Linked DNA regions of Homo sapiens: all the other regions are linked to region 3. Evidence: fine-mapped expression QTL. A gene starts in region 3. Each other region holds a variant in brackets. All regions are shown on one strand. Distances are between the middles of the regions.

Region 1 (8,179 bases), 84 kb before region 3:
CAAGTGAAAGTTACAAGAAGGGAACCTCACCCTTAAAACAGCCTGACCTGCATCCTGAGCTGTGTCCAGCAATGGAGAGGGGATAAGCTGAACAACCACACTCTCGAAAGCACCCTAATGGCCAAGGGAGTTTTTTCATGGCAGAGTCTGAGGCCTAAGCCATGGCAGGGTTTGATTTCTGCACCAATGATTCTTCTGCAGCTACCAGAGCAGGGCCACCTCAGGTAGGGGGCACTGGGACCTTGTATTTCCTTCAAAGGGCAAAAAGGCCTCCTTGTGCCCAGTGCATGACCAGGAGCCCTCATGCACAGAGACCCCCACGCTGAATTTCAGGCTGCGTCTACACAGCCAAAGCTAGACCAGTCCACAGCAGCCCCTTGCCCTGGGCTTTGCACAGCCTTAGAGCAGCCCCTTACCCCGCCCTAACCTCTCCAGGCTCTTGCCTTTAACCTCATGCCCTGTTTGACTTAAGGCTGTTTAGGGGCAAGTGATCAAGCTGGCTTAAGTAAAAGAAGGAGTTCAGAAAGAGCTAGCTCCAGGCATGGCCGTATCCAGGGTCTCAAATATGTATTATTCAACAAATATTTATCAGTACTTCTATGTTCCAGGCACTGTACTTGGCATACAAACCAAACACCTGCCCTCATGAAGACCAAGACTGCATAAGAATGTGCATTCTCACCTATGTCTTCCAGTGGGCACAGCCAGATGGCCCCTCTGGCCACAAGTGGCTGTAGCAGCAGCTCTTGAGATACTATCCTTCCAGGTTCAAATCCACCACAGAAGAGTGAGTCCCAACAAAAGTCCTTAAAACACTAATTAGACATCTAAGGGTCAAGCTCCCACTGCTGAAGCAATCACTGTGGCCAGGGAAATGGGATGTGGTGATTGGCTGGGGCCCTGGCCTCATGATTCATTCAGACCATTGAAATGAGGCTGGAGGACAATGTGGCCAAGGAAGGGAGTGAGTGCTGGGGAGCAACAGCAGATGTCTTCTCCATTCCCCCTGCCCAGGGTCTCCTTGCCTGAGGCTCATTCTCCTCTCCAAACGAGCTCCTCTGAGAAGCTGAGCAGGCTGCATTGTGCTCTCCTTTCTTCTCTGGTTTCCTCCCAAAAATAATAATAATAAAAATGTATACGGGTGTGCAAGCTACAGTTTACACACTAATTTCACATCCATTGTTTCACCCTCTCCAAATGATCCCTGTGAAATTGTAGGTGCTATAAACTGAAGGCTTGTGTCCCCCTAAAACTCATATGTTGGAGCCCTAACCCCCAATGGGATGGTATTTGGTGGTGGGGCCTTTGGAAAGTGATTACGGTTAAATGAGGTGATGAAGATGGCACCCTCATGATGGGATTGGTGTCCTTTTAAGGAGAGAGCTTCCTCACTCTCGCCTTCACCCTGCATGCACACAAAGAAAAGGCCAGGTGAGGATGCAGAAGGCAGCCATCTGCAAGCCTGGAAGAGAGCCCTCACCAGAACCCAGCCATGATGGCACCTTGATCTCAGCCTTCCAGCCTCCAGAGATGTGAGAAAATAAGTGTTTATTGTTGAAGCCACACGATCTGTGATATTTTGTTGGGGCAGCCTGAGCTGACTAAGACAATAAGGTAGGCTCTAACCTCTTCCTGTCCCAAGCCCCTCCAGGACTGTCTAGAAAGGCAACAGGGTTTTGAGAAAAGGCTTCTGTGCTATGTAACCTGGAGTAGGATGACATAAAGGGAATTCCAGGCTGATGGAAGGGAGGCAGGTGAGGGATACGCCCATGTCTCACTCTGCACCCTACTGCCTTGGACTCTGATGCAGGGACAGGAAGGACTTCCCATCCCCTCCCTTTTTTTTTTTTTTTTTTTTTTTTGAGACGGAGTCTCACTCTGTGGCCAAGGCTGGAGTACAGTGGTACAATCTCAGCTCATTGCAACCTCTACCTCCTGAGTTCAAGCGGTTCTCCTGCCTCAGCCTCCCAAGTAGCTGGGATTACAGGCGTGAGCCACCATGCCCAGCTAATTTTTGTGTTTTTAGTAGAGACCAGGTTTCACCATGTTGGCCAGGCTGGTCTCAAACTCCTGACCTCAGGTGATCTGCCTGCCTCGGCCTCCCAAAGTGCTGGGATTACTAGCGTGAGCCACCGCACCCAGCCCCCATCCTCTTCTCAGGCTCAGCGCAGGAGTGAGAGTCAGGACTGGCCACTGACTTGGACATCGGGACACCTGATCTCTAGTCTCTGCTTTGTCCCTGACTTGCTGGGTGACCCTGCAGGTGTCTTCCCCTCCCTGAGCCTGTCTCCACTTCTGTAAAATGATGAGTTGGGATGTTGTACACACAAGGTCCCTTCCAGCTTGGAGTGCTGGTCTGTGCTCTGGAGCCTCTGAGGAACTGGGACAGCAGAGAGCCATGCAGAGCAGATGGGTGCCCAGGTACCTGACCCTGGCATGCTCCTCCTTCCCTTCACTCAGGGCTCAGGGGAAGGTGCAGCCCAACAACACCAGCGAGCTCAGCATCCATTTGTCCCCCACAGGTTCACCCAGCCTGACCTGGGTCGAGCCACTCGTAGAATTTCCGATGGTTAGTCATACTTTTTTGAGTAAATATCATGGTAAAAAGACATGACATTTCCGGGGCCAGTCTTCAGCATTAATAAAAGATTCCAAGAACAGGGTGACCTTTTCACAAAGGATTTGTAAATGCCAAAAACTATATAAAACCTCTCTTTCTGAGGCAGGCAGGATTGTCACAGCTCAGCATTTATTCCCCCACATGTGAGGCTGGCTCTGGTTTCTCCCAGTTCTATGTGCTGGCAGGTGAGAAGCTGTGAGCACTGTCTGAGGGAGGAGGAGCGAGGAGGAGCAGGAGGGAGGAGAGGAAGGAGAAAGAGAGGAGGTGAAGGAGAGGAAAGATGGAGAAGAGAGAAGAGGAAGAAGAGAAAGAGAAGAGGAGGGAGAAGGAAGGAAGGAGGAGGAGAGGAGAAGGAGGAGGACAGAGGAAAAAAGGAAAGGAAGAGGAGAGGAAGAAGAGGATGAAGGAGAAGGAAGAAAAAGGAAGAAGAGGGCAAGGAAAGAGAAAAGGAAAGAGGAGGAGTAGGAGGAAGAAGAGAAGAAAGAGGAGGAAGGGAGGAGGAGGAGTAAGAGGAGAAAGAGAAAGAGGAGGAGAAGTAAGAGGAGGAGGGGAAGGAAGACGAGGGAGAAGACTAGGAGGAAAAAACAAGGAATAGCAAAGTGTAGGGCAGGGCCAGCCCTGGAAGCAGCATGGGTGGGTGAGGACCTCTCAGTTGCTTAGGAGGCCACTGAGAATGAAGCGTCTAAAGTGCCATCCTTCAACCTCCACCACAGGACTGTCTGTCACATCTGAGCGGGTCAAGCAAAAGGTGGCTCCTGACAGCAACCAACCAACGCAGTGAGAAATAAAAAACGTGTCTTCCCATGGAAGTCCTAGGCTATGCTCCTCCCGATGTGCATAGGATCCCAAATACTCACTCTGTTGCTAGCCTTCCCCCATCCGTGGTCCACAGAACCTCAGGGGAAGGCAGGCAGCACAATGTCTGCAAAGAACACAGGCTTTGGGGTCACACTCACCTCGTTCTGGGCTGGACTCTTTCCAAGCTTCAGTTTCCTCATCTAGAAAAAAGACCTCCCTCTTAGTAGTAGACGGATGGTGCCAAAACATTACCAGGTGCAAACTGAACACTAGGAGGAGCCGTCCCTACTAGGGTGCCCAGCTCCAGCCTTCCTTGTGGTCCTTCTCATTGGTACAAATCTCCAGTGCGTGGGCAGGCATGGAAGCCTGAGTGCCTTCAGAAGCGGATTTTGCTTCTCAGGCCAGAAAATTACATCAAACTCTCCCCACTCCCCTCTCTGGGGCAGGGACCTGGGAGGAGAAGGAGACTTCCCAAGCAGGGAACCCTCCATGTGGAGTATTGCCTCGGCAATGAGCAGCTCTAGACAACTGCTCCCCATACCACTTGCGGCCTCTGCTTGGCTGGAAGCTTGGCTGCCCCTTTGCTGGGTTCATTGTGTAATGGTGCTTGACAGATCCTAATTTTCTTTTTAAAAGACATGCATTATAGCAGAGGACAAAATAACACCCATCAGTGACATGAGGCAATTGTCCAGTTAGTGAGGATGGAGTGGGTTTCCCTGCCCGGCTCAAGTGCTTGACTGATGAAGAATTTTAGAAAGGGGTCCGCAAAGAGCTTTTCAATTTAATGATCATATTTTCAGGGCTATTG[A/G]TGGGCCAGGCCCTGTGCTGAGCAATGGGGAAGTCCACATAGAGAAGCCTGGTCCCTGCCCTTTATAAGCCCTGAAGTAATGAAAGATGAGTCCTTACCACAGCCCTGTGGATTAGGTCCCATGAAATGAAAGCCCAGAGAAGGTTAGAGATTTGCCCCAAGTCACACAGCTCCCTAAGGCAGAACGAGGACTAGAGTTCAGATCTTTGCCTGTTGGACCACCACTCTTTAGCCCGTCCTGTGGGAAGTGAGCTCCAGACTGATTCCCAGTTGTCTTTCAGGTAGGATGGCACAGTGGTTAAGAAAGCTGATCTCTGGAATCAGACAAACTCAGTGTTTTCTGACAATTGTTATACCAAATCAAGCTCATTTCCTGTTCTGGTGGAAGGAATGTCACTTGATTCAGTGAGGCGGTTGGCAACATCTCCCACGTCATCTTTGTGGACAAGGTGGAGACATGGGGACTAGGTGTTGCTAGAGTTGGGAAGATTCCTACAGTCGATTCCTTGCTCACCCGGCTAATTCAACTTCCATGGGGTGTGGCTAGAGAGAGGCAATTAAAGATGACTCTGGGCCAGAAGCGGTGGCTCACGTCTGTAATCCCAGCACTTTGGGATGCTGAGGCGGGTGGATTACCTGAGGTCAGGAGTTCGAGACCAGCCTGGGCAACATGGTGAAACCCCATCTCTACTAAAAATACAAAAATTAGCTGGGCGTGATGGCAGGCGCCTGTAATCCCAGCTACTTGGGAGGTTGAGGCAGGAGAATTGCTTGAACCCGGGAGGCAGAGGTTTCAGTGAGCCAACATTGCACCATTGCACTCCAGCCTGGACGACAAGAGAGAAATTCCATCTCAAAAAAAAAAAAAAAAAAGATGATTCTGGATGAACCTGGAGAAAAGTCTCTGCCTGCGTGGGCTTTCTTTGCTCTTGGCTTCATCATCACTATCATTCATTCATTCGATATACATTCATCAAGCACTTGCTACTCCCAGCCTTACACCAGGCGGTGGGGGTATAATGGGGTGCAAAACAGATGGAGTTCCCGCCTTGAAGGAGTTTATAGTCTGGTGGGAAAGACAGATAACTCAGTAAGCAGTAATCACTGAGGGAGGCCAGTTACCCAGTGCCATGACTGGAGGTGGGTCTCATAAGAGCAAGAGATGGAAGCCTATCCTGGGGGTGGTGGGGTGGCAGGGAAGCCATAATCATATGTGAAAGGTGAGTTAGCCAGAGGAAGGGGGTGGGGTAAGAGCGGGTTCCTGCCAAAAAGGATAACGTGTGCAAAAGTCCAAGTTTCAGAGGAAGCAAGCGTGCTGCAAATGGACCAGTATGGCCAGAACATGGACTGGGGGATGGATGCGGGGAGCCATGAGGCTGGAGGAGAGAACCGGGGCCAAGTCTGGAACTGCCTGGAACTCAGGCTTCATCTTGAAATCCGGAACGATGCATTGAAGGATTCTGGACAGAGTTGCCATGGTCAGGTTTGTCCTCTGAAGAGAGCTCTCCGGCTGCTGTTGGAAAGTGGGCTGGAGGCGAAAAGCCTGGAGGCAGGGAGTACAGGTCAGAGGCTCTGGGAGCAGCCAGGTGAGAGATTGGGCTGGACACGCATGGCACTGGGGGTGAAAGAAATGGACAACTTCGAAGATATCAGAGAGTAAAAAAGACAGACTTTGGTGACTGAGGGGGGCGCTGCGGGGGCTGGGAAGGGGTCCTGGCCGTCACAGTCCCCACATAGCACGAAAAAGGGAGAAGCTGTTGGGCCTGGCAAAGGTGCATAAGTCCAGAGGTCAGAAGCAAAATCATGTCCACTGGAGTGAGCCTGAGGAGGGAGCACCAGGAAGACACATCCAAAACAGAGCATGGGGGGGGGGCCTGCATGTGCTGAGGGAGGAAGCCAAAAAGGGTCAGAACACCAGGGAAGGGGATGTTAGCAGGGAAGGCCAAATTGGGGAGCAGGGAGCATTGCTCTGAGCCCCCTAGCCAAGATCCCGCTGCCCTTTTGTGTAGGGGTTAGGAAAATGCCAAGGGGCCAGTGCAGGGGACAGCTGAGGATGCCACTCACAGGAAAGGCTGGCAGCTAAAGTGACAGTCCACACTGACAGAGCCAGAGCGTGAAGCCTGCACTGAGGCTGGATACCCAGGCGCGGAAGTCTTAGCTCACAGCTGCTCCCACGGGGCGGTCCTGGTGTCTCCATCTGACTGCAAGGTCTGTGCGAGCCGCCAGCCGCATGTGGCTGCCAAGAAAGCAATTGCTTTCTCTGACTACATTAATAGGAGTTTAGTGTCCGGATCAATGTGGCTAAGAGTCCCGCTGCACTCAGCACTTGTCAAGTTAAATCTGAGCTCAAGACTGTAAGGAACCTGCGTGGTTCAGACACTTCCCTTGGGGGCTCCTCAGGCCCCGGTCTAAAAAGCCGATGCTCCTCCTTTTGGGTGACAGTGACCCCACTCCCACGTCTGCAGGGCCTACCTCACCTGGGAACGTTCCACCTCCAGCTGGAATTGCCTAGGAGGCTCTGAAACAGGCAGGAGTATAGGTCCAATTGTTGCCGGATCACCCTATATTTTAAGATAAAATTCAGAACATCGGATTTATATGTGAAATCTAATGATTTTAAAATACCGGTCCAAATGTCTTTTGTTGTTGTTTTTGTTTTGTTTTGTTTTGTTTTTGAGACAGAGGCTCACTCTGTTGCCCAGGTTGGAGTGCAGTGGCGTGATCTCGGCTCACTGCAACCTCCGCCTCCTGGGTTCAAGTGATTCCCGTGCCTCAGCCTCCCAAGTAGCTGGATCTACAGGTGTGCACCACCACTCCTGGCTAATTTTTGCATATTTCATAGAGATGGGGTTTCACCATGTTGGTCAGGCAGGTCTCGAACTCCTGACCTCAGGTGATCCACCCACCTTGGCTTCCCAAAGTGCTGGGATTACAGGCATGAGCCACCTTGCCCGGCCTTGTTTTTGTTTTTGATAGAGAAAGGGGCTTGCTATGTTGACCAGGCTAGTCTGGAACCCCTGGCCTCAAGTCATCTTCCCACCTCAACCTCCCAAAGTGCTGGGACTACAGGCGGGAGCCACCATGGCTTACCCATCCAAATGTTTTTAAAAACCCAGTATAGGCTAAACACGTCTGTGAGCTGTATCAAGCCTATAGCCTCCAGTCTGTGACCTCTGAGCTAGCCAAGACCTCCGTTTTGCAGGTAAGGAGAGCAAATCTCAGAGCACACAGCTCAGCACCAAGCTGAGCTTATCAGAAGCAGGCCCTTCCTTTGTTTTTCTCCACAGCCACACCCTGTACCCCATCCTCAAGTCTTAGTCCCTCATACCTGAGCCCCTATCTTTGTGTCTAGGATCTTAGCACCTCTGAAACATTGTTGAGCTCCATCCTCCAGAGACCTCTAGCATTGTTCTGATCCCAGCCTACTTCTGAGGCCCTTTCCAGCTCCCAGATCTGTCTCCACATTCTGCCTACGGTGTGAGTCTCTTGGTGTGCCTGGAGAGCCCAGGCACCCACCCACCCCATGCCTGAGCTCTCCTGATTTCTCATGTTAGTTCCTTATTGCTGCTATAACTTAGTGGTTTAAAATAACACAGACAGATTATAGTTCTGGAGGTCAGAAATCCAAAGCAGATCTTACAGGCTAAAATAAGTGTCAGCAGAGCTGCACTCCTTCTGATAGTTGTAGGGGAGAATTCGTTTCCTTGTTTCTTCAGCCTTATAGATACTGCCTGAATTCCTTGGCTCATGGCCCCTGCCTCCGCCTTCAAAGCTCCTCACTGGAGCCTCTGCCTCCGTCATCGCATCTCCTCTCTGATGCTGAACCTTTGCCTCCCTCTTACAGGGACCTTTATAATTACATTAGGACCACCTGGATAAGCCAGGACGCTCTCATCCTGAGGTCCTTAACTTAATCATATCCGGAAAGTCGCTTTTGCCATCCTCACGGG
Region 2 (8,179 bases), 32 kb after region 3:
CAGCCTGGACCACCCGAGTTTAAGGGATCCTCTTACCTCAGCCCCGCTAGGAGCTGAGACTACAGGAGCATGCCAACATGCAGCGATAATTTTTGTATATTTTTTGTATAGAGATGAGATTTCACTGTGTTGACCAAGCTGGTCTCAAACTCCTGGGCTCAAGCAAGCTGCTCACCTTGACCTCCCAAAGTGCTGGGATCACAGATGTGAGCCACCATGCCCAGCCCTTCATGTGTGTGTGTGTGTGTGTGTGTGTGTGTGTGTGTGTGTGTGTGTGTAGAGAGAGAGACAGAGACAGAGACAGACAGAGTCTTGCTCTGTCACCAGGCTGGCATGCGGTGGCACGATCTCTGCTCACTGCAACCTCTGCCTCCCAGGTTCAAGCAATTCTCATGCCTCAGCCTCCAGAGTAGCTGGGATTACAGGCACGCACCACCACACCCAGCTAATTTTTTGTCGTCTTAGTAGAAACGGGGTTTCACCATGTTGGCCAGGTTGGTCTTGAACTCCTGACCTCAAATGATCCTTCTGCCTCAGCCTCCCAAAGTGCTGGGATCACAGGCATGAGCCACCATGCCAGCCCTTTATATATTTTTAAGTAGTCTGATACAACACCATTTTGAATGACCACATGCTATTCCATAGGGAAAGTGCCATGGCTGATTTGACCATTCTCCTGTTCTTGGCCATTTTAAGCTGCTTCTAGTTGTTCATAGTTATAAATGTGAGGTAGGCTTTAAAGGACCTGGATACAGGTACTGCAAGTAGCAGTGGACAGGTGGGAAATCTTCAAAGAGTTCCAAGCAGCTAGAGGCAGAGACCAGATGGTGGCTGGCCGGGGGATGGGGGCTGGGATAGGCAAAGGGAACCAAGAACACCAGGCCAGAGAGGAGAGTTTGGGATGGGCGGGAGCAAGTGGAGCCTTAAGAGAATGCCGTGGGAAAGTCAGAGGCTTCAGCCACAAGTGGGAGGAGAAATTTTCAAGGAACTGAATCAGCTAGACAAGGCAGAGAGAAGAATAAGGAAGCTACTATAAAAAAAACAAGAAAGTTCAGGAAGAAAGGGTGGAGGTTGGCCAAGGGCTGTGTGAAGGAAGAGGAGAACCAACCAGAGATATTAAAGAAATGAAGATGACAGGATGGGAGCTTCCAGGTGTTTGGCATGTGATTAAGCATTGTGCATTTTCAAGTATAAATTTTTAATTTTTTTTCAGTCACCTTGATTAAGGATGGCAAATGCCAACGGAAATAAAAAATTTAAAATGTATTTTTCAAGTTTCACAAAACTAAGTAAGTGTAAAAGAAATTCAAGTAAGCTTTCATTTATGGCTTTTTTTCGTGTGTGTGTGTGTGTGTGTGTGTGTGTGTGTGTGTGTGATGGGATCTCACTGTGTCTCCCAGGAATAGTGCAGTGGCATGACCATACCTCACTGCAACCTTGGCCTCCCAGGTTCAAGCCATTCTCCTGCCTCAGCCTCCTGAGTAGCTGGGACTACAGGTGCACACCACCACATTGCCTAATTTTTTTTATTTTTTGTAGAAACAGGATCTTACTATGTTGCCCAGGCTGGTCTTAAACTCCTGGGCTCAATCGATCCTCCTGCCTCTACCTCCTCAAGTACTGGGATTACAGGCTAGAGCCACTGCACTCAGCTGGCTTTTTTTATATGTTTGTAGTACTTGTACTTTCACAGTTATTAAAACTTAAAACTGCTCTAGGACTTTTGGGATACTCTTTAGTAGCTTTTAATTCTCACATACCCCTCTGCAGCAGGTGCTATTGCTGTCCTCTTTTTGCAGCGGAGGAGACGGAGTGAGGGATAGAGAAGCAGAGCCCACATGCAGGCAGCTCCTTGCCTCTGCTTCTTGCCCCCACATGGCTCTGCAGACTTAGGGGAAAAGATGAATTCAGGTTGGGGACTTGTTGGGACAAATTAGATCAAAGAATTACTGGGATGTCAAGGTGGGGATATCCAACCAGAAAATAGAAAACTCAGTCTGAAACTTGGAATAGAGATTTGAGTAGTTGAAGCCTTGGAGGTAGATGAGGTCACTAAAGTAGTGTGTGAAAACAGATTAAATGGGTGGAAATTCCATGAGTCGGAGTCTACTCTAACACCCTCAGACAAAGCCCGTCATCTCTTCCCCTCAGGCTGCAAATATTCTCTCCTAGGGCACTCCCCACAGCCATCCCTCTCCTGCAGACCCTCTTGTTATCCTGGGAAGGGGATAGGGTCCCATGTGAGCCAACCTGGACAGCAGTGCATATGATCATATACAGTCTTCCATCACAACATCCTCAGGCCATCTCTCCCAGGCTCTGCTACTGCCTCCCGTCTTCTTTCCTGGGCACTGGGACTCCAGAATGTCTGTGCCAAAGGAACACAGGTGTGTCTGCATCAAAGGGAGGAAGGCTGTCAAATTTTTTTTAAATTAAAATTGTCAAATTTTTTTAAAAAATTTTTTTCTTATCTGCAGTGCTCAGCACCGAGGCCAGGCCCTATGCTGAGCAGTGCAGATTTAAAAAAAAAAAAAAAAAGACAAATGTCTGTCCCTGCCCTCAAGGAACTCCCAGACTGAGGCAGAAACAGACACACAAGGTGAACACTTCAGTGTGCTATGGTAAGGGCTGTAGAATGAGGAGCCACATGGAGGAGAGGGACCTAGCCCTGGGTGACGGGCAGACAGGCAGGGAGGGCTGGTCAGTACTGGAGATGGCACTACCCGCTGTGGCCTGGTGCTCAGGGGGACAAAGCCCAACTGTGTTGTGCAGGGCTGGGCACCTCAAACCCCTGCCAGACACATCACATCTCTCCTGTCCTTCTCTCTCCCCCTCAGGTTCAGGTGGGTCCCAGTCACAGATGCCTATTGGCAGATTCTCTTCTCCGTCCTCAAGGTCACCAGAAACCTGAAGGAGCTGGACCTAAGTGGAAACTCGCTGAGCCACTCTGCAGTGAAGAGTCTTTGTAAGACCCTGAGACGCCCTCGCTGCCTCCTGGAGACCCTGCGGTGAGTCTGGCCTGGGTTCTGTTCTGAAGCAGGGATGGGGAAGAGATCCAAGGCAGAAGCTGAGTCTGGGCTGAGGGATTTGTCTTTGTATTTATCAAATATTCGTTGAGGCCTTCTCTGGCCGGGATGACTTTAGTAAACAAACACAGATAGGATTTTTTGCTCATAAAAAAAAAAAATTCCTTCATGAAGTGAGGTTTGAGGGAGGTCTGAAGAATACAGAGGATTTAACTAAGCAAAGCAGGAAGGAAAAAGTTCCAGGAAAAGAGAATAGCATGTACAAAGGCTCTGTGGAGAAGGCAGGAGGAGGCAGTCAAGAAACTGAAAGCAGGCCAGTGTGGCTGGAGGGCAGATAGCAAAGGGTTGAGATAAGGCTACAGATACCAACAGGAAGTAGACTATGCCAGGCTTGTGCACCATGTTGGATTTGGGTCTTTTCCTGATGGTGTGGAATTTTAAGCAGAAGGTTGACAAGATCAGTACATTTTCAAAATAGAAACTGGCTGCAACATGAAAAATGGATTGGAAGAGTGCAAAAGTAGAGGCTGGGAAACCAATTAGTAAGAAAATTGCAGTAGTCCCTGCAAAGATGGTAATAGTTTGGACTAAGGAAAATTATAGTACTTTTAAATGTCACAGATAGTCATAGCTTGGACTATGGTATTGGCAATGGATATGGAACAAAGTGGCTAGATGTAAGAGAGCTATAAAAGTAAAATCAACTGGGCTCAGTAATGGATTGAATTTAGGAAAAAAAGGAAGAGGAAGATATCAAGGATGATTTTAGGTTTCTGACCAAAGCAACTCATGGGATAGTGGCATCTTCATCAAGATGGGGAATACTAAAAGAAAAGTGATTGGGGGGTGGAATGTCATGAGTGTGATCTCGTGCTTGCTGGTTTCAAGATCCTTTCAAGGTATCCAACTGGACCTGCCAAATAGGT[T/A]TCAAATAAAGCTCTATCCAAAGATAAGATCGCCCCATAAAACAAATCTCAACAAATCTGCAAGGACTGAAATCATACAAAGTATATTCTCTGACCATGATAAAATGAAATTAGAAATCAACAATAGAAGGAAAGTTGAGGAGTTCATAAATACACTGAAATTTAAAAACACACTCCTAAATAACCAAGGGTCAAAGAAGAAATCACAAAGGAAATTAGAAAACACTTTGAGAGGGATGAAAACAAAATCACAACATGCCAAAATGTATTGGATGCAGCTAATGCAGTGCTTAAAGGGAAGTTTATAGTTATAAATACTTCTATTTAAAAAAAAAAAAAAAAAAAAAAAAAAAAAAAGGAAAGATAGAGCCAGACATGATGGCCCATGCCTGTAATCCCAAATCTTTGGAAGGCCAAGGCAGGACAATTGCCTTAGGCCAGGAGTTTGAGACCAGCCTGGGCAACATAGAGAGACTCTGTCTCTACAAAAACATAAAATAAAAAATTAGTTGAGAATGATGATGTGTGCCTGTTGTCATAACTACTTAGGAGGCTGAGACAGGAGTCTCACTTGAGCCCAGGAGTTCAACACTGCAGTGAGCTGTGATTATGCCATTGCACTTCAAGCTGGGCAACAGAGACAGACCTTATCTCTAAAAAAATTACTCAAAATTTTTTTAATTAATGAAAAAAAGAAAAGATACCACTACATACTTATCAGAATGGCCAAAATCCAAAACACTGACAACACCAAATGCTGACGAGGATGTGGAAAAACAGGAACTCTCATTCATTGTTGGTGGGAATGCAAAATGAGACAGCCCCTTTGGAATACAGTCTAGCAGTTTTCTACAAAACAAAATATACTTTTACCATAGGATCCAGCAATCGCATTCCTTGATATTTACCAAAATGAGTTGAATACCTCTGTCCACACAAAAACCTGCACATGAATGTTTATGGCAGCTTTGTTCATCATTGCCAAAACTTGGAAGCAAGCTGCCCTTCAGAAAGTGAATGGACTCATAAATTGTGGTACAAACAGACAATGGACTATTATTCAATGCTAAAAAGAAATAAGCTATCAAGCTACACAAAGATATGGAGAAACTTTAAATGCATGTTACTAAAAGAAGCCAATCTAAAAAGGCTACATGCTGTATGCTTCCAACTATATGACATTCTGGAAGAGGCAAAAACAAGGAGATAGTAAAAAAGATTAGTGGTTTCCAGGGCTTGGGGGAAGGGAGGAATTAATAGAGCACAGTAGAGTTTTAGGGCAGTGAAACTATTCTATATACTGTAATCGTTCATACATATTATTTTACAGCAATCAAAATCCATAGAATGTACACCACCAAGAGTGACCCCTAATGTAAACTATGGACTTTGGGTGATGATGTGTCCATGTCAGTTTATCAATTGTAACAAATGTCACCACAATATACTAGTGTGGTACAGCATGTCAGCAGTGGGAAAGATTGTATGAGGGATGTGGGGACAGGGAGTATATGGGAACTCGCTGTACTTTTTGCTCAATTTTACTGTGAACCTAAAACTACTCTAAAAAATAAAGTCTATTGAAGAAGAAGAAAAAGAAGAAGCAGAGAAATCTCAAATAAGTAACCTAAACTTACACCTTAAGAATTTGTTTTCCTTAGGTCTTTCATGTTAGTAAAGAAATTTTTTTAAAAAGCAAACAAAACCAAAAGCAAGCAGGGGGAAAGAAATAATAAAGACTAGAGTAGAGATAAATGAAACAGAGAATAGAAAACAATACAGAAAACCAATGAAACTAAAAGTTAGTTCTTTAAAAATACCAACAAAATTTGACACCTTTTAGCTAGACTAACTAAAATGTAAGAAGATTCAGATTACTAAAATCAGAAATAAAAGATGGGGTATCACAATTGAACTTACAGAAATAAAAGGATTATAAGTGAATATTATGAAATATTGTAAGCCAACAAATTAGATAACCCAGATGAAATGAGCCAACTTCCAGAAAGACACGAATACCTAAACTGACTTAATAAGAAATACAAAATCTTAATAGACTTATAACAAATAGAGATATTGAATTAGTAAGTTAAAAACTTTCTATGAAACAAAGCCCAGGCCCAGATGGCTTTACTAGTGAATTCTACCAAATATTTAAAGAAGAATTAACACTTATATTTTCAAACTCTTCCAAAAATAGCAGAAAAGAGAACACGTGCCAATTTGTTCTATGAGACCAATATTACCCTGATACCAAAATTAGACTAAGATAACCAAAAGCATCACAAGAGAAAAAAAAAAATCTGCAGGCCAACATCCTTTATGAATATATATGCAAAATTACATAACAAAATACTGGCAACATATAAAAAGGATTGTAGACCATGACCAAATGGGATTTATCCCAAGAATGCAAATTGGGTTTAACCTAGGATAATTGATCAATGTAATGCAAGATGTTAATAGAATAAAGAACACAAACCAATGATTATCTCAAAGACACAAAAAAAGCATTTGACAAACCCTCAACACCTTTTCACATTGGAAACACTCAGCAAACTAGAAATAAAAGGGAACTTTATCAACCTGATAAAGTTGTTACCAGTAAAAAAACCCACAGCTAACATTATACTTAATGGTGGATGACTGAGTGCTTTCCCCCTAAGATTAGGAATAAGACAAAGATGTCTGTTCTTGCCATTTCTATTCAACACTGTACTCAAGGTTCCATCCAGAGTAATTAAGCAAGAAAATGAAATTAACAGCTTCCAGATTGAAAAGAAAGTAATTAAACTATTATTTGCAGGTGACATGACATTGTATGTAGAAAATCCTAAGGAATCTACAAATATTAAAATTAGGGCCAGGTGTGGTGGCTCATGCCCTGTAATCCCAGCACTTTGGGAGGCTGAGGTGGGTGGATTGCTTGAGTTCCGGAGTTCAAGACCAGCCAGGGCAACACGGCAAAACCCTGTCTCTACCAAAACTACAAAATATTAGCCGGGCGTGGTGGCACACGCCCACAGTCCCAGCTACTCAGGAGGCTGAGGTGGGAGAATCGCTTCAGCCTGGTAGGCAGAGGTAGCAGTGAGCTGAGATTGTGCCACTGCACTCCAACCTGGGTGACAAAGGGAGACCCTGTTGAAAAAGAAAAAAAAAAAAAACTAATGATTTCAGCAAGGTTTCAGGAAACAAGATCAATATACAAAAATTAGTTGTGCTGCTATACACTAGCAATGAACAATCCAAAAATTAAATTAGGAAAACAATAAATTTAACAAAAGAAAACTTGTATACAGAGAACTACAAAAAATGGTTGAAAGAAATTATGTAAGACCTAAACAAATGAAAAGATGTCCCATGTTCATAGATTGGAAGACTTGATATTATTAAAATGACAATACCCCCCAAACTGATCTATAGATTCAACACAATCCCTAGCAGAATCCCAGCTGCCATTTTTGCAGAAATGGACAAGCTGATTCTAAAATTCACGGGCAAAAATAAGATTGCATGTCAAGCCTGGGGAACACCCCCACCCCAGTATTTAATGGCCAAAGAAGAGCCAACAAACAAGCCTGAGAAGGAGGGGCCACATAGATGAAAGGGACACCAGGAGAGAGAGGTGTCATGGAACCCAACAGAGCAGAGGGTCTCAAGGAGGTCAGCAGGGACTACTGCTGCTGGGAGGTCAAGATAAGGACTGAAATTTGTCCATTGGATTAGTGATAGGAAAGTCATGAATAACCTCAGCAGAAGTACCTTATGTGGCATGAAGAGGCGAGAATGCAGACTGGAGTGCATTAAAGAGGGAGAAGGAGGTAAAAAATGAGACCACAAATATACTTTCTTCAAAGACTTTGATAGTGAAAAGGAGGAAAGCACTAAAGCAGAGGGGATGGTGGGCTGAGTAAATGTGTGTGTCTGTCCATCTGCTTACTTGCATTTAAGAAGGAAAAGATCTCAGTTTGAGAATCAGTGAGGAGGAGTGATAAAAGACACAAGAAGGAGAAGGAGTCATTGATGGCTCTCTATCCTCAGAGGGAGGAGGGAGGAGAAAGATTGGCCTTGGAAGAGGGAGGAAATGTCTCCTTTACTGTAACAGGAGGGGAGATGAGGACAGGGAAGAGAGAGGTAGGAACATAGGTTTCACTCTGAGAAGCTGAGAGGTTCCCATCTGATGGCTTCATTTTTCTCTGAGAAATAGGAATTGAGTTGTTTGCTAGG
Region 3 (8,179 bases):
ACGGCAGCAAGGTAGTCAAGACCAGTCGATCAGAGGGGAACCAAGAACTGACTTCAGAACCCCATGAGGCAATGCCTGGGACACGCTTAGAAATAGGTGGGAGGAGAGGAATTTCAAGGAGGCTGATTTCAAGTTATCCAGATCTTGATTCAAGTCATAGTAATTTGAACCTAAAGAGAAGGCCTCACTGTACTCTGCTGGAGTACTGGCCATACAGATATTCCTCATGAGTTAAGTTTTAATTGAAAATAGCATGACTTGAATAAAAGTGAGTTTTAATGTGTTCCTAAAATGCCTCAAGGAAAGGAAACAAAGGCCCAAAGCACCAGAAACAGGGATAATTTTAAAAATTCAGGCTCAGAGAGCGCCAGTGGGTCCTCTCCACCAAACCCATGAGGCTGCTTCAATTCTCAGAAAGTACTTGAGTGCCATCTAGTGGCCAGAGTGAGTAGCTGTTTGGAAGGATAAGAAGGAAAGCATTAAAGGAAAGCGTTCAAAAGACATTCAATGTCTGTGGTATTGATTGTGCTGACATTGTGGGCCAGGCACTGATTTAGGCATAGCGGATACAACAGCGAACAAAACAAGCCAAGTCCTGTCTCCAGGGACCTAACATCCTATTGGCAGGAGGGGGTGACAGAAGGTAAACAAATAAACAAGTCTGTAACGTCAGGCAATAATAAGTGTCATGCGGAAAAATGAAGCACGGAATGAAGGAATTCTACTTTACAGAAGGTTGGATAGCACACCTCTGAATATCTGGGGAAACCATTCCAAGACAATGGAAAGACTAGTGCAAAGGCCCTGGAGTGAGAGTATTCTTGGTGTATTCAAGGAACAGGGAAAAGACTAAGAGGATCCAGTGAGGGAGGGGGATAGGGTAGGATATAATGCCGGAGAGATATCAGGGGCTAGATCATGCAGCCCCCGGGAACCATTGGGAGGGCTCTGGGAGATTTGGGGAGTTGTTGTTGTTGTTGTTGTTGTTTGGTTTGGTTTGGTTTGAGACTGTGTTTTGCTCTTGTCGCCCAGGCTGGAGTGCAATGGTGCAATCTCGGCTCACTGCAATCTCTGCCTCCCAGGTTCAAGCAGTTCTCCTGCCTCAGCCTCCTGAAGGAATACGGCGTGCGCCACCACACCCGGATAATTTTTTTTGTATTATAATTATTAGAGATGGGATTTCACCATGTTAGCCAGGCTGGTCTTGAACTCCTGGCCTCAGGTGATCTGCCCGCCTCAGCCTCCCAAAGTGCTGAGATTACAGGCATGAGCCACTGTACCTGGCCGGATTTGGGAAGTTTTTTAATATTATGTCATAGGGACAGGGTCTTGCCATGTTTCCCAGACTGGTCTTGAACTCCTGGACTCAAGCGATCCTCCCACCTCAGCCTCCCAAAGTGCTGGGATTACAGGCACGAGTCACCACACCTTTGGTTGGACTTTGGTTTTTACTCAGAGTGAGATGGAGTATGGGAAAGTTTTGAGCTGAGAAGTGACCTGACCTAATTTATGCTTTAAGTGGATAATTCTGGCTTCTAGACTGAGAGTAGACAGTAAAGGGGAAGCATCAGCATGGGTGGAGAACATGTGGAAGGCTAGCACAGTGATCCCAGTAAGAGACGACTGAAGGCTGGACCAGCAGCCCCAGTGGGCGTGGTGGGAAGGGTCAGGTTTCTGATCTATTTAACAGGTTGAGTGGATCTCCAGCGGCCAGTGATTTAATGAATTATGCCTGTGAAGTGAAACCTCCGAGAAAACCCCACAGTCTTGTTTGTTTGGGGTTTGGAGAGCTTCCAGGTTAGTGAAGCAGGGAGGGGCAGGGAGAGTAGGGTGCCCGGGAGGGCAAGGAAGCGCTGTGCCCCTCCCCCACCCACACCTTGACCTCGGCATCTCTTCCGTTGGGCTATTCCTGAGTCGTATCCTCCATCATGAACCGATAATAATAAATAAAGTGCTTTTCTCAGTCCTGTGAGTCATTTCAGCAAATTATTGAACCTGCCGGGGACTGTGGGAACCCTTGAATTTGTCACCAAGTCAGACAGAGATGCCAGTGGTCTGGGCACCCCATTTGCAACTGGCATCTGATATGAGGCCAGCTCTTCACTGAAACCCTAAACCTGTGAGGTTTGATGCCAACTCCAGGCAGTCAGTGTCAGAATTGCACTGTAGGACACCAGTTGGTGTCTAGAGAGTTGGTGCCAGAACTGGCTGGTGTGAGGAGGAAAAAAAGCCCACACAGCCCTCCTCCAGGCCATTCCTCCCGCTACATGGAGTCTCACGGTCCTTCACGGAGTGCTCAGAGCCTCCCGATCATCCCACTTTTAGCACAGCACTTTTCCACTTCTGGTCAATCTGATATTAGAATGTCCTACAATGTGCTTATTAGCCATTTTTTAAAACTAACATTTATAAAATTTATTTAGGCCAGGCACGGAGGCTCACACCTGTAATCCCAACATTTCGGGAGGCCGAAGTGGGCGGATCACCTCGGATCAGACTGGCTAACATGGTGAAACCCCATCTCTACTAAAAATACAAAACAATTAGCCAGGCGTGGTGGTGAGTGACTGTAATCCCAACTGCCCAGGAAGCTGGGCTGATGCAGGAGAATCGCTGGAACCCAGGAGGTGGAGGGAGCTTGCAGTGAGCCGAGATCTTGCCACTGCACTCCAGCCTGGGAAAGAGAGAGAGACTCTAAGACCTTTTGCTGAATTGAAGCCTCTTGGTAAACCTATGATGTCCCATTTAATAGATGGGCAAACTGAGGCTCAAAGAAATAAATCAGGCACATAAGGAGTCCTTGTCCAAGCAAGCCGTGGGTTGAAGCCTGGGCTCTGCCAGTCCAAGTGAAACCAAAGCATCTCCAGAAATTCCTGGTGGTGTGTTACATCAGCAAATGAGTAGGCAATGTCATTCCTCAACCTGAAGTCATTGGCATCTTGCAGATTCCACGAAAGAGGAAGTCTGCCCCTGGCTCCCCGAGGCCTGCTTGCAGGAATGAGGAAGGGGCTGTTCTGCTTTCAGGTGGAAATGTTCACCAGCTAAGTGCTGGGCTGCCCAGAAGGCAAACAGCCCCCTGGGCCTGGGACACATGCTTTAGTGCCCCTGGTAGCATGGCAGGACATGCAGTGCAACTCAAGAAGCTCCCAAAACCATGAGAGGCTGGGAAAAATGCTCCCTGGCCCAGTTCTAATGTTTCCCAATAAGGAGCTGCCCGGGCAGACACAGGGGGCCCCACCCATCCTGAGAGGCTGGGCCTGGGCTGCAGACACAACTGCTCGGAGAGTCTGCATCCTGGCTCTGCAGACAGGCTCTAGATGATGGGCTGGCGGAGTGCCCATGTGGAGGTGCACACACCGTGTTTAGTATGGGCCTGTACCTGCTGCAGCGTCAGCTGGTCTGGGCCTGTGCTCCTGGTCCGCCTATAGATGCCATGTGGCCCATCTGAATCTGTGACTCTGAGTCTGGCCTACCCAGGCCTGGTTTGATCCTACCCCCTGGCCACGCCCCTTGTGGGTTTCCTCTGGGTGACGTTTCCTTCCTGCTCTTGTTGACTAGGCGCTGTTCTTGCTGGCTGGTGCCCCAGGGCCTGGAGAGGTCTGAAGAAACCTGGGAGCCAGCAGCCCGGGGCTCCACTCTGGGTTCTGAAAGCCCATTCCCTGCTCTGCGGCTCCTCCCACCCCACCTCTTCTCAGCCTTGCAGCTCAAGGGTTGATCTCAGGAGTCCAGGACCCAGGAGAGGGAAGAATCTGAGGAACACAGAACAGTGAGCGTTGCCCACACCCCATCTCCCGTCACCACATCTCCCCTCACCCTCACCCTCCCTGCCTGGCCCTGGACCCCATCCCAGGACCTCCCTATCAGCTGACTTCTTCCAGTGTCTTGCAGGCCCCTCTGGGCTCCTCCCTCCCCTGGCTTTTCCTACCACTCCCCCTCTATCGGCGTCTATCTGTAGGTGCCCTGGGATTTATAAAACTGGGTTCCGAATGCTGAATAAGAGACGGTAAGAGCCAAGGCAAAGGACAGCACTGTTCTCTGCCTGCCTGATACCCTCACCACCTGGGAACATCCCCCAGACACCCTCTTAACTCCGGGACAGAGATGGCTGGCGGAGCCTGGGGCCGCCTGGCCTGTTACTTGGAGTTCCTGAAGAAGGAGGAGCTGAAGGAGTTCCAGCTTCTGCTCGCCAATAAAGCGCACTCCAGGAGCTCTTCGGGTGAGACACCCGCTCAGCCAGAGAAGACGAGTGGCATGGAGGTGGCCTCGTACCTGGTGGCTCAGTATGGGGAGCAGCGGGCCTGGGACCTAGCCCTCCATACCTGGGAGCAGATGGGGCTGAGGTCACTGTGCGCCCAAGCCCAGGAAGGGGCAGGTGAGTGGACAGAGGACCCCACTGCCCGCGGGACATCCCCTGGCCCTCATGCCTGCCCTGCCCTCTTGGGACCCCACCACTGAGCCCTCCCTGCCAGGCCTTCCTCTGAGCAGTGACATGGAACTGCCCTCTCAAAGGGGGATCCAGGCCCCAGACTATGCTGGAGCCAGGAGGCTTGCTGGGGGGGCCCTTGCTGCACCTCAGAGCCCCACACCCTCTTCTATTCAAGTGCATTCCCGGTACTCGCCTGGCATTGTAGTTATGAGCACGGACTTGGGAGTCAGGCACTATCACCAGTCCTGGCACTATCACCCTGGGCCAATCACTTCACTGCTCTCTGCCTATTTCTCTGTCTGCAAAATGGGAGAGTGAGAGCCCGCCTCCCTGGGCTGTGTGAGGGTTAAAAGAGATCATCCAGGTTAAACATTTAGCACAGAGTCTGATATACAGTAAGTGCTCAATAAATAAGATCTCCCATTGCTGTTGTTGCTGCTGCTGCTGCTGCTGTTATTATTACTATTAGCCACCCTGGGTTGCAGATGCCGTTGGCCCAATAAAGCACAGCTGAGGCTCAGTAGGAGTAGTGATTTACACAGGGAGATAGTCAGGACCAAGACAGATATGCAAATTTCCTGATCCTAGATGAGGATTTTTTGCCTAGCAGTATCTATAAGAACATCATTCTTCAGACAAGCCTCTAGAGGAAGTTGTAGAGGGCTGCAGCGGGTTCACTGGTGTATCCTGACCTCTCTTGGTTGAGAGAGGAGACCAGCTCAGTTCCCTGGCACCTTGCCCCTGCCCCTCTGATGTGTCTCCAACCTCTTTGTCTCTTTCCTGTAGGCCACTCTCCCTCATTCCCCTACAGCCCAAGTGAACCCCACCTGGGGTCTCCCAGCCAACCCACCTCCACCGCAGTGCTAATGCCCTGGATCCATGAATTGCCGGCGGGGTGCACCCAGGGCTCAGAGAGAAGGGTTTTGAGACAGCTGCCTGACACATCTGGACGCCGCTGGAGAGGTGAGGCTTGCTGAGGCAGGCTGACAGCCCTGGGTGGAGCTGTGAATCAGCTGGTGGGCCCCACCCAGAGGATCATGTCTGTGCATGGGGACCTGACATGGGGGACAGCAGAGGAAGGATAGGGGAGCCAGGATGGGCTGTGAGAGGTAGGCCTGAAATTGATCTTTCAGGGACCTTCCGGTGCTGAGATTGCATCCCTCCCCATGTGGCAGATGGGGAAGCTGAGACCCATGTGGGTCAGGCAATGAGTCTTCCCCAACTGGGTGCCCAACTCGTGACATGGTCCTTGCCCGAGAACTCAGCTCATAATATTGATGGGCTCTGAAGATCCTTAGGGTCAGGGTGGTCCAGAAGTTCCAAGGAGGACTCTGTTTTCCAGACAGACCCCAAGAAGAGGCTAGGCTTAGTCCTCGGCCCAAGCCAGCTCCCTCACATGACTTCTCTCTTCACTACTAAGAGAATAAAATTGCCCCTCTACTTCAACATGGTTTTCAAAATAATATTATTAAGACCCATCTCTCAGGACTGTTGTGAGAGTTTAAAATATATGCACCTAAAAGAAAATAAATGTTCAGTAAATGGTTATTTTTCTTTTCATTCCCCCCAGAAATCTCTGCCTCACTCCTCTACCAAGCTCTTCCAAGCTCCCCAGACCATGAGTCTCCAAGCCAGGAGTCACCCAACGCCCCCACATCCACAGCAGTGCTGGGGAGCTGGGGATCCCCACCTCAGCCCAGCCTAGCACCCAGAGAGCAGGAGGCTCCTGGGACCCAATGGCCTCTGGATGAAACGTCAGGAATTTACTACACAGGTGAGACCCTACTGAGCTCCTGGCGGGGTGGTGAGGTGGGAGAGGCAAATGTATGGACAAAGAGTCCCCTGGGGACCAGGTTGGCAGGCTAAGCAGAGGTTCTGGAAAACATCTGAAATTTCCCTCAGGAAATCCCACCCTTGGAGCCTCTCCACTGGTCCAAGGCACTGTTTCCAGGAGGCACCTGGACATTAAAATACAGATGTGTTACCCAGCACATCTGGGGGACAACAGAGCAAGGAGAGGGGAGCCTGGATGGGGTTACACATCACCTGGTTTACTGGACAGGGCACTGGCCTGGGGTCAGGAGAGCTGGGTTCAATTTCCACTGAGCTCCTCACCCCACAAGTGGCCTACAGCTAGTCCCATGCCCATCAGTGCTCACTGGACACTCTCTGGGTTAGACCATGTCCAGGGCTTTACGTGTACATTGGACTTAAATTTTACAACCACTCCGTGAGATAAATATTGCTATTATCATACCCTGGAGATGAGAAAACCAAGGATTAAAAAGATAGTCTCACAGTTAGTACTAGCAAAGATGGAATTCAGCCTTCACTCTCTCTCACGCAGCAATCCACACTTTTAACTCTTACACAGGGAGTGCCCTCATCTGGGCAATAAGGACAGTCATACTAAAGCCACAGGTACAGAGGCTCCTGATGCCACAGGTTCCTTAACCACTGAACCATGCTGCCTCTCAATGCCGGAGGATGCCTCCTTTGAAATCTGAGAGGTTTTAAGTTAAAAGGATTTCTTCTGCACCCAGCAAGGAGTGAACTTGTAGATTTTGTGGTCGTATATGGCCTAGGCTCAAAGTATATCAGTTTACTTAATTACTCACACCACTTGCCATTCAAAAAAAGAAGCCATGTAACAAACCTGCACATATACCGCGTGAGTCTAAAATAAAAAATAAATAAACTCATGTTTTAAAAATCTTGATAGGGTATATAAGGAAAGATCAACATTCGAGTTAAACTAAGGAAAACAGAAAGTCAAGAAAGGAAGATTCTAATACTTTAAGTTGTTTCTTTCTATATTTGAGAATCACAAAGATAACTTTTTCTCAGAATTATTTTGTGAATTAAAAAATCCAAACAATAAAGACAATTAAAACTGAAAAACAGAAAAGAAGGAAGATAGGAAGAATATAAAGACATATCAGAGCCATCTATAGAAGCATAAAAATGCAGTAACTTTAAAAGTGAAAAAAACAAGTATGAAAACCACAAAGACTACCTCATTGCTATAAATAAAGTTTCCATCAATTGTGGGCATTCTAGCAACACTGGCAAAAGGGGAAATATAATGGGTTACACAATACCTGTTACTCAATAGAAAAGACCAATGCAAGGGAAATAACATTTTTCCCTGATTCTAAATTCTAAGGGAATTCTTCAAATAGGGAACTTAAAAAAAAAACAACAACAAACTTTTATTTTAGTTTCAGAAACACATGTGCAGGTTTGTTATATAGGTAAGTTATGTGTCACAAGTGTTTGGTGTACAGATTATCTTGTCGCCCAGGTAATAAGCATGGTACCTGTTAGGTTGGGTTTTTTGTTTGTTTTTGTTTTTGTTTTTTGTTTGTTGTTTTTTGTTTTTTGTTGTGTTTTGTTTTGAGACAGAGTCTTGCTCGGTCACCCAGGCTGGAGTGCAGTGGCGTGATCTCCACTCACTGCAAGCTCTGCCTCCCGGGTTCACGCCATTCTCCTGCCTCAGCCTCCCGAGTCGCTGGGACTACAGGTGCCCGCCACGAAGCCCTGCTAATTTTTTGTATTTTTAGTAGAGATGGGGTTTCACCATGTTAGTCAGGCTGGTCTCGAACTCCTGATCCGAGGTGATCCACCCACCTCAGCCACCCAAAGTGCTAGGATTACAGGTGTGAGCCACCGCGCCCGGCCCGGTAGTTTTTTAATCCTTACCCTTCTCCCACTCTTCACTCTCAAAAGGTCCCAGTGTCTATTGTTCCTTTT

Which allele goes with the higher level. Alleles are on the strand shown, and positions count from the first base shown. SD is a standard deviation of normalised expression in the study named. Not every link is listed here.
For the expression in gastroesophageal junction of the gene that starts at base 3,550 in region 3, A is the low allele of the variant in region 1 and G is the other (moderate effect, 0.50 SD a copy in GTEx).

What was found. PIP is the estimated chance that this variant, and not a neighbour inherited with it, causes the effect.
Region 1: its variant is the best candidate, but not a certain one, in a credible set for the expression of NLRP1 in gastroesophageal junction (GTEx, PIP 0.80).
Region 2: its variant is the best candidate, but not a certain one, in a credible set for the expression of NLRP1 in whole blood (INTERVAL, PIP 0.59).

The regions. Positions count from the first base shown.
Region 1 is chr17:5,663,588-5,671,766 of GRCh38, reverse strand. No RefSeq gene overlaps it. Among named protein-coding and RNA genes, the nearest start is that of NLRP1, 83 kb to the right of the region's middle. The variant A/G (reference allele first, on the strand shown) is at 4,230.
Region 2 is chr17:5,548,215-5,556,393 of GRCh38, reverse strand. It overlaps NLRP1 (NLR family pyrin domain containing 1), which reads left to right. Exons shown (of 17, transcript NM_033004.4): 5 at 2,838-3,008. It overlaps LOC105371507 (a long non-coding RNA gene), which reads right to left. Exons shown (of 3, transcript XR_007065589.1): 2 at 2,251-2,393; 3 at 1,796-1,888. Among named protein-coding and RNA genes, the nearest start is that of NLRP1, 32 kb to the left of the region's middle. The variant T/A (reference allele first, on the strand shown) is at 3,953.
Region 3 is chr17:5,579,880-5,588,058 of GRCh38, reverse strand. It overlaps NLRP1 (NLR family pyrin domain containing 1), which reads left to right and starts at 3,550. Exons shown (of 17, transcript NM_033004.4): 1 at 3,550-4,372; 2 at 5,213-5,389; 3 at 5,997-6,200. The coding sequence starts at 4,102. RefSeq lists enhancers at 3,162-3,461, 3,482-3,741, 3,013-4,212.